Linked DNA regions of Homo sapiens: regions 2 and 3 are each reported to be linked to region 1. The links are microRNA targets in miRTarBase. Many come from high-throughput screens and were not tested one by one. Region 1 holds a microRNA gene; each other region holds the end of a gene's coding sequence.
The links. The annotated mature microRNA hsa-miR-3923 reads AACUAGUAAUGUUGGAUUAGGG and lies in region 1 at 1,862-1,883, shown strand. An mRNA with a match to its seed (bases 2 to 7 or 8) in the 3' UTR can be bound and repressed. Matches are read on the target gene's strand: a 7mer-m8 pairs with bases 2 to 8, a 7mer-A1 pairs with bases 2 to 7 and ends in A, and an 8mer does both.

Region 1 (3,363 bases):
TAAAGAATCTGCATTTTATTAAATTGAAAGAGAGATCACAGGTTTATTTATTTATTATTATTATATTAATTATTTTTAATATGGCAAGTGTTTTGAGATTTTATGATGAGAAATATGCTTTACAAAAAAAGCCTTTCGTAGCAGTGAGGAATAACTGAAATAGATAGTAAGTGGAGGCAGCAATATCAATTAGAAGATTTTTAAGGATATGAATGTCAAATCGTAAGATGCCTAACCAGCAACGGGGTGAATAGAAGTAAGAGATAATGAAATGACAAATAATTAGAATTTATCTGTTTATTGAAGTAGGAACAGAAAAAGTTACTCATCAGATGCCAACAGTAAGTTTCAAAGAAAAGAAATAGAAAAACAATGAGATGAAGCAATTTTTTTTTTTTGAGATGGAGTCTCACTCTGTTGCCAGGCTGGAAGGATCTCGGCTCTCTGCAACCTCCACCTCCCGGGTTCAAGTAATTCTCCTGCCTCAGCCTCCTGCATAGCTGGGACTACAGGCATGCACCACCACGCCCAGCTAATTTTTGTACTTTTAGTAGAGACAGGGTTTCACCATGTTGGCCAGGATGGTCTCGATCTCCTGACCTCGTGATCCACCCGCCTTGGCCTCCCAAAGTGCTGGGATTACAGGCGTGAGTCACTGTGCCCGGCTGAGACAAAGCAATTTTTAAAACAAGTGGATGAATTTGGTGTTAAGTATGTTGAGTTTCAAGTGTCATAAAAGCATATGTGCAACTTACATATTAGGTATGTGAAAGGTTTAAACTGGCAAGTAGGAAAGAGTGTGAATTTGTTATCCATTAACCAAATATCCAAACCCCAATGGAAAGATTACAGAGTTCATAGGAGGTTACTGGAAGGCAATTTGTGTCAGGTTACAACACACTGCCAGTGCTTTATGCAGCCACATCACCTAGATTCTGGAAGTGTCAGTTGCCCAATCAATCAACATACATAATAGAGCTCCTCTTGAGCCCTGGCACTGTTTTACATAAGGGGATCAAACCTGATGATAGATCATGATTCCTATTATAATGCTTAGAGCACATTAGCCGGTTTATTAAAAGCAGGAGAGTGAGGAGCATGATGATGTACAAAACAAGAACTACATCCCTTGTGACCTAATAGGACAGCTACGAAGAGGGTTCTTTGATAAAAATGTAGACCACAAATAAATGCCTACCAAGGTGTCTACACACTCTGAGAACAACTCTATGTGAGTCCCCGGTATACACAAACTATCGGGACCATTAGAAATAAATGGGGGCAGGGGTTTTTGTTCACTGACTTTCCTCTCTATTGAAATAGCTGAAGAGCAGTACTGCAACTTACTACAACAAAAGGCCATATCAAGAGGATGCAAATTTTTTGTGGAGGTTCTTCAGAGCCTTTCAGTAATCTTTCCAAGCATGCTTTCCTTTGTTTTGGGAATGAGAAGTGTAGAAGAGGTTTTTGGTGGTCCTTCTATGCACTTTGCCATTTTATTGTATTGTTCATCATAAAGAATAATTGATCTCTTAATTTTCTAATTTTGCAAGTCTGTGTATATCCACATTTTACTTGGAAACAACATGGGTGTGTTTCTGTGGTATATGCTGGCGGTGTCATGGACTCACCAGGCTTTAATTTTTCTTCACAATATAACATTTAGCAACATTCAGGAAGGTATCCATGATTTTGTGGGCTGAATGGTCCCTTCAAAATTCATATGTTGAAGTCCTAATATTCGGAACCTCAGAATATTACTGTGTTTGGGTATCAGGTGTTGAAAGAGATAATTAGGCTAATATAAGTCTGGTAGAGTGAGCTCTAATCCAATATTACTAGCTTCTTTATAAGAAGAGGAAACTAGTAATGTTGGATTAGGGCTCACTCTACTATTCTCAGCAAAATATCAGCAAAATATCACAAGGACAGGAAACCAAACAATGCATGTTCTCATTCATAAGTGGGAGTTGAACGATGAGAACACATGGACACAGGGAGGGGAACATCACACACTGGGGCCTGTTGGGGGGTGGGGAGCTTGGGGAGGAATAGCATTAGGACAAATACCTAATGTAAATGACGAGTTGATGGGTACAGCAAACCAACGTGGCACATGTACACCTATGTAACAAACCTGCACGTTGTGCACATGTACCCTAGAACTTAAAGTATAATAATAAAAATCAAAAAGAAGAGGAGATTAGGACAGAGGCAAACACAAAAGGAAGACCATGTGAAAACCCATGGAAGAAGATAGCTATCTACAAACCAAACAGTGAGGCCAGAGAAGAAACCAATCCTGCCTAAACGTTGATCTCAAACTTCTAGCCTCGAAAATTGTAAGAAAACAAATTTCTTTGGCTTAAAACCCTCAATCTGTGGTGCTTTGTTATGGCAGACCTAGCAAACTAATACACTCAGTAACAAAGATCTTTGAACTACCATTGCTCAATAGAATGCAAGCAATTTCATTAACACTTTTTTATTGCTTAAATAAAAGCAATTTCCACCAAAAACCTTATGGCTTTTCATTCCCCCAAAAAGGAATTCTCAGAAATTACGTTTGATTAAAATTTGTGTTAGTATTGTAAAACAGAATGCAGGATCTGGCATCCGTTTTCTAATTATCTCTGAGAAAAAATCAAAAATATAAATGAAGCAATTAGAGTCTGCTCATCAAAATAAGTGACCTTCTTCTATTTAGCATGGGTTTTGTTGGAGGCTGGTCAAGTTAATTACACATTATTCTCTTATTCTGTAGACAAACATTTATAATATGTGGGCTTTATTGGCATATAATTGTTTAGTTTACTTTTCTTAGAATCATGTATTTCATTTAAGATACAATCTGACAAAACAAAGTATAAGTCTTATAGAAATAACACAGTTGAAAAGAATTCATAGTTGAAGACAAGATTAGCTTTTTTTCAAGGTATAGGATAAGCATATTTGATGACACATTAGTAAGTCCTTAGCAAAAACAATTTTTATAATGTAGGAGCACATAGTTAATTTATTGCAAAAAGATAAAACACTATTTTTGGGCAGGGATATAATTTCCAACATGGATTCAGATCTATTATGTACCTAAAGGAATCACCTAGACTTGTCTTTTTCCTGTGAAAAAAACAACATATTCTGGGATTATAGCTGGTTCTACTTTATTATTTTTTTTTTCTGGAAGGCAGCCAAATTTCAGTGCTTAGCAATATTTATGGCGGAATTAAATCACATTTGCTGTAGTTTAAACACCTCTCTTTTTAATGTTCCTGCTTATGCTCATTTTAAAATGTTTACCTCAAACTTAAAGACTGTATCCTGTCTAAAAAAGCTGCTGGGATATGGGGTTAGGTATTCAGA
Region 2 (3,000 bases), not on the chromosome of region 1:
ATCATACCTATTAAAGCTGTTCATTGTAACAAAATTCAATCAAAAAGGCAGCTAGGTCAGAAGGAAACATACCACTCTCATGGTTCATAGTATTCACTGTATGTATGCTAGGGAAAAGACTTGCTCCAGTCTCCTCCTCAGTTCTGTGCCTGAGAACCACTGCTGCATATATTTGTTTTTAAATTTTGTATTGAACTGTTAATTGAAGCTTTAAAAGCATATATGAAATGTATAAATCTAAGATGTATAATACATTATTGACTCTATGAATGTTTTCTGAAGTTTGTTAGTCATTTGTAAAACTAAATCAGATTGTAATCCCAGTACTTTGGGAGGCCAAGGCAGGCTGATTGCTTGAGGTCAGGAGTTTGAGACCAGCCTGGCCAAAATCTATACTAAAAAAAATACAAAAATTAGCTGGGCATCCCAGCTATGCAGAAGCTGAAGCACAAGAATTGCTTGAACCCTGGAGGTGGAGGTTGCAGTGAGCTGAGATCGTCCCACTGCACTCCAGCCCGGGCAACAGAGTAAGACCCTGCCTCAAGAAAAAAAAAAAAAAAAAAAATCAGGATTGTGAAAGGTCATCATCATTTAAGATACGTTTAATTAAATTGTGACTTCCATACGTAGTATTTTAAAAATGCACACTTGAAGCAATCACTGTCCAGCATACTTAAGAAGCTCCCTTCTTATCGTGTAGTAAATTCTTCCCAGTCACCTGCGTTCATACCATTATACTGTTTGTTTGTTAGTCCTAGATCTTTTCTCCTCTTCACAATGCTTTGCTTAAATCCTGCCCTTCTAAAAAGCCAAAAAAAAAAAAAAAAAACTTGAGGTTTTTTTTTTTTTTGGAGAGGGAAAAGAACATAATTCCTAAAGAAAGGCCATATAACTATATCATAGGCCAACCATGTATTTTATGTGTAGTGTCTTCCTCTGTAATATGTGAAAATATCCAGTTAGTTAGTTAGTGAAAGACTTAACGAAAGAAAAACCCACAAGAAATTATTAAACTTTTACTATCGAAAGGATTTACTTTGGTGGAGTTGAGGGTGGGAGAGAAATGAATCTTTATGTTCTCCTGTTAGAGAATAGCTTTTTTCCTTCCAGCTTTCACACTGGCACATGCTTATTACAATTCTACCTTGGGAACATGACAGAATTTTTTTCTTATGCATTCATGCAACATAAACAGATAATTCTAGGAAGACTGTGATTAAGTCACTTGCATTCTGACCTATTATTTTCATCTCTCCCTGACTCTGGGTGAGCCAAAGGCTATTAAGATGATGTTCTCCTGCTCACTCACTAGGCAGACCTCTACTCGAGAAGTGATCTGACACCGCAGTAGCTGATGCTCGTCCAGTGACTAAAGCAGTCAGGCTGAAAACAGATTTTATCTCAACAACAGTCCTAGTTTCTTCTGTCCTCAAACACTGTTATTTATTTTCAAGATAAAATTTAGTAACAACATTACGAAGTAGCTTTTATTCCCTTGGGTGAATAAGATGTGCACATTTAATAATAAATTTGCTTACTAAAGGTCCTTTTAGGGGAAAACAACCTTAAAAATACAGTTCTAGTCCTTGGGCAGTGAACAAAGAAAAAATGTGCTTGAGAAACACAGTCCAGGTTAAAGGAAAACTCTCAGATCGGTTAATGCAGTTGAATTTTTGCTTGAGAATGTGAGCAACGTATCAGCAAATACATTCATTCTTGTGCTACTCTTCATTATTTAGCATAGAGCTACCTTAGGTGTTTCTACACATGCTCTAAACCAAGAGTAAGTTTAACATGTCAGCAGTGAGGAGTAGACATTTTCTACTATAGCACACTGGGAGATGTTTACTGGTACTCTAGGTAGAAATGACTCCATTGTCCACTAAGTTTGGGAAATAAATAATATGGCAACATTGCTACTGGAGATACATAATGTACAGAAGCCTAACTATAAAGAGATTTGATTAACGAGACTTAAGTCTTAGTCCAGAATTTCCCAAATTTATGTGAACATGGGACATCATTTTTCATAGCACACACGTGAACAAGCCATTATTCTTTAAACAAGGTATTACAAACTCAACCACTCTGGAGAACTGATGAGCGCCTAACTGAAATTATTAGACTAAATTCTTAGTAAACAATGTTTTCTGAACCTTGTTCAGAAATATAATCACTGCAAATTATTTTCCAAGTGTTGTTCTAAAAAACAATATAACTGGACACTAGTAAGAAAGTAAGGTAAATTATTAATCCACTCGCATTCAATTCTACAAGGAATGAAACCATTTTTAAAAGTGGCTTAGAACAAACAATTTACTGAGCACTTACTATGCACCCACCAGGTATATTCCTTTTATAATGTAATCTTCAAAATGAGCTGTCAAACTATTGGCCCATTTTGTGAATGAGGAAAATGAAAATTAAGTTATATAATCATGAGTGGCAGAGCTGGGAAATGAACTCAAGTCTGTGACTCTGAAGACATGAAAAAGTTACACATTTCAGATGAATGCATAAACTATCTTTATGGGTATGACATGAAAAGTAACTGTAGAATGTTACCTTAATTACATTTCCTAATGCATGATGTGGACAGACATTAGAAAAGTTTGGACTCAGTTGGAAAAACAAATCCAGCAGTTAAAAAAGTCCTTTACTTGCAATCCCTACCCCTAGCTAACCCAAGAGCATTTAAAAAATAACTTAAAAAGTAGCCATCAAAGATACCAATCAATTTCTTACTGGTGAAATATATAAGAACTTCCAGGAGTCACAAGAGTTCCAAACAATTAATTTATAAAAATAACAAAACATTTGTCTATGAAAAAAAGATCAGGATTCACTCTCATCGACGTCCTCATCTGGATGGTGCTCAGCATCCTCCTTTTCCTGCTGCTGTTTCTTCCACAGTTTGGCCATGGCCAGGAGTTTGAGGTTAGGTTGGTTGGCAGCATCTTCTGGAAAGATGTAATCAAAGTATTCTTCCCAGCCTGCATC
Region 3 (3,363 bases), not on the chromosome of region 1:
ACCCATTTGTATTTCACTTTCTTCATCTGTAAGATGAGGATGGTAACAGCAAATGTGAGAGTAAAATAAATAATGCATGTATAGCACTTAGAAAATTGTAGGTCACCAAATTAGTGCCTGATAAATATTATTTTTATTTTGATTAGTGATAGCATTATATCAATGTGATGGAAAGAGTGTATTAATGTAGCATGATTTGTAAATATTCATTCCTTAGAAGGGAGGAAGGAAAAAGAAAGAGAGACAGAAAAAGAAAACCTAAAATTCAGACTTAAATGTGGCCACACGCCTCTTGGAATTTCACAATATTCATGATCACGTTAAAGACTTTGAGAAACTCTTTAAGTGTATTTTATCATTTCATTCCAAAATTGTTTGACTACAGCACATCACCTCTTCATCCCTCTTTTTTTTTTTTTTTTTAACATTGTCCAACCTAAATCTGTTCAACTTTGTCATTTTGGAAACACTATGCTAATGTGCCTTTGGAGTCCATATATAACACACTTGTTCCTTTGCTATTAACTGCAGTGCTAACAGTTTCGTTTGTGAATATTTCCAGGTACAGAAATCGAAAAAGTAAAGAACCAAAGAAGGAATATGAGAGAGTTACCTCAGGGGATCCAGAGTTGCCGCAAGTCTGAATGGCGCCATCAAACTTATGGGCAGGGATAACAGTGTGCCTGGTTAATATTAATATTCCCATTTTATTAATAATATTTATGTTGGGTCAAGTGTTAGGTCAATAACACTGTATTTTAATGTACTTGAAAAATGTTTTTATTTTTGTTTTATTTTTGACAGACTATTTGCTAATGTATAATGTGCAGAAAATATTTAATATCAAAAGAAAATTGATATTTTTATACAAGTAATTTCCTGAGCTAAATGCTTCATTGAAAGCTTCAAAGTTTATATGCCTGGTGCACAGTGCTTAGAAGTAAGCAATTCCCAGGTCATAGCTCAAGAATTGTTAGCAAATGACAGATTTCTGTAAGCCTATATATATAGTCAAATCGATTTAGTAAGTATGTTTTTTATGTTCCTCAAATCAGTGATAATTGGTTTGACTGTACCATGGTTTGATATGTAGTTGGCACCATGGTATCATATATTAAAACAATAATGCAATTAGAATTTGGGAGAAGCAAATATAGGTCCTGTGTTAAACACTACACATTTGAAACAAGCTAACCCTGGGGAGTCTATGGTCTCTTCACTCAGGTCTCAGCTATAATTCTGTTATATGAGGGGCAGTGGACAGTTCCCTATGCCAACTCACGACTCCTACAGGTACTAGTCACTCATCTACCAGATTCTGCCTATGTAAAATGAATTGAAAAACAATTTTCTGTAATCTTTTATTTAAGTAGTGGGCATTTCATAGCTTCACAATGTTCCTTTTTTGTATATTACAACATTTATGTGAGGTAATTATTGCTCAACAGACAATTAGAAAAAAGTCCACACTTGAAGCCTAAATTTGTGCTTTTTAAGAATATTTTTAGACTATTTCTTTTTATAGGGGCTTTGCTGAATTCTAACATTAAATCACAGCCCAAAATTTGATGGACTAATTATTATTTTAAAATATATGAAGACAATAATTCTACATGTTGTCTTAAGATGGAAATACAGTTATTTCATCTTTTATTCAAGGAAGTTTTAACTTTAATACAGCTCAGTAAATGGCTTCTTCTAGAATGTAAAGTTATGTATTTAAAGTTGTATCTTGACACAGGAAATGGGAAAAAACTTAAAAATTAATATGGTGTATTTTTCCAAATGAAAAATCTCAATTGAAAGCTTTTAAAATGTAGAAACTTAAACACACCTTCCTGTGGAGGCTGAGATGAAAACTAGGGCTCATTTTCCTGACATTTGTTTATTTTTTGGAAGAGACAAAGATTTCTTCTGCACTCTGAGCCCATAGGTCTCAGAGAGTTAATAGGAGTATTTTTGGGCTATTGCATAAGGAGCCACTGCTGCCACCACTTTTGGATTTTATGGGAGGCTCCTTCATCGAATGCTAAACCTTTGAGTAGAGTCTCCCTGGATCACATACCAGGTCAGGGAGGATCTGTTCTTCCTCTACGTTTATCCTGGCATGTGCTAGGGTAAACGAAGGCATAATAAGCCATGGCTGACCTCTGGAGCACCAGGTGCCAGGACTTGTCTCCATGTGTATCCATGCATTATATACCCTGGTGCAATCACACGACTGTCATCTAAAGTCCTGGCCCTGGCCCTTACTATTAGGAAAATAAACAGACAAAAACAAGTAAATATATATGGTCATATACATATTGTATATATATTCATATACAAACATGTATGTATACATGACCTTAATGGATCATAGAATTGCAGTCATTTGGTGCTCTGCTAACCATTTATATAAAACTTAAAAACAAGAGAAAAGAAAAATCAATTAGATCTAAACAGTTATTTCTGTTTCCTATTTAATACAGCTGAAGTCAAAATATGTAAGAACACATTTTAAATACTCTACTTACAGTTGGCCCTCTGTGGTTAGTTCCACATCTGTGGATTCAACCAACCAAGGACGGAAAATGCTTAAAAAATAATACAACAACAACAAAAAATACATTATAACAACTATTTACTTTTTTTTTTTTCTTTTTGAGATGGAGTCTCGCTCTGTTGCCCAGGTTGGAGTGCAGTGGCACGATCTCGGCTCACTGCAACCTCACCTCCCGGGTTCAAGAGATCCTCCTGCCTCAGCCTCCTGAGCAGCTGGGACTACAGGCGCATGCCACCATGCCCAGCTAATTTTTGTATTTTTAGTAGAGGCGGGGTTTCACCATGTTGGCCAGGATGGTCTCAATCTCCTAACCTTGAGATCCACCCTCCACAGCCTCCCAAACTGCTGGGATTACAGGTGTGAGCCACCGCACGTAGCATTTACATTAGGTATTACAAGTAATGTAAAGATGATTTAAGTATACAGGAGGATGTGAATAGGTTATATGCAAGCACTATGCCCTTTTATATAAGTGACTTGAACATCTGTGCCCGATTTTAGTATGTGCAGGGGGGCGATCTGGGAATCAGTCCCCTGTGGATACCAAGGTACAACTGTATTTATTAACGCTTACTAGATGTGAGGAGAGTCTGAATATTTTCAGTGATCTTGGCTGTTTCAAAAAAATCTATTGACTTTTCAATAAATCAGCTGCAATCCATTTATTTCATTTACAAAAGATTTATTGTAAGCATCTCAATCTTGGTTTGTCAGTTTATCTTAAGCATGTCAATTCATAAAAACAAGTCATTTTTGTATTTTTCATCTTTAAGAATGCTTAAAAAAGCTAATCCCTAAAATAGTTAGATCTTTGTAAA

Region 2: the mRNA of CRNKL1 is a reported target of hsa-miR-3923. Seed matches in the 3' UTR shown: 7mer-m8 at 2,225-2,231.
Region 3: the mRNA of EREG is a reported target of hsa-miR-3923. Seed matches in the 3' UTR shown: 7mer-m8 at 1,295-1,301.

What each region holds. Positions count from the first base shown.
Region 1 is chr3:79,506,076-79,509,438 of GRCh38, forward strand. MIR3923 (microRNA 3923) reads left to right here and starts at 1,812; the gene lies at 1,812-1,894. The region is part of intron 2 of ROBO1 (roundabout guidance receptor 1); the gene reads right to left.
Region 2 is chr20:20,033,360-20,036,359 of GRCh38, forward strand. It overlaps CRNKL1 (crooked neck pre-mRNA splicing factor 1), which reads right to left. Exons shown (of 14, transcript NM_001278628.2): 14 at 1,009-3,000. The coding sequence ends at 2,836. NAA20 (N-alpha-acetyltransferase 20, NatB catalytic subunit) reads left to right here. Exons shown (of 6, transcript NM_016100.5): 6 at 1-296. Among named protein-coding and RNA genes, the nearest start is that of NAA20, 17 kb to the left of the region's middle.
Region 3 is chr4:74,384,165-74,387,527 of GRCh38, forward strand. It overlaps EREG (epiregulin), which reads left to right. Exons shown (of 5, transcript NM_001432.3): 5 at 563-3,363. The coding sequence ends at 644. Among named protein-coding and RNA genes, the nearest start is that of EREG, 21 kb to the left of the region's middle.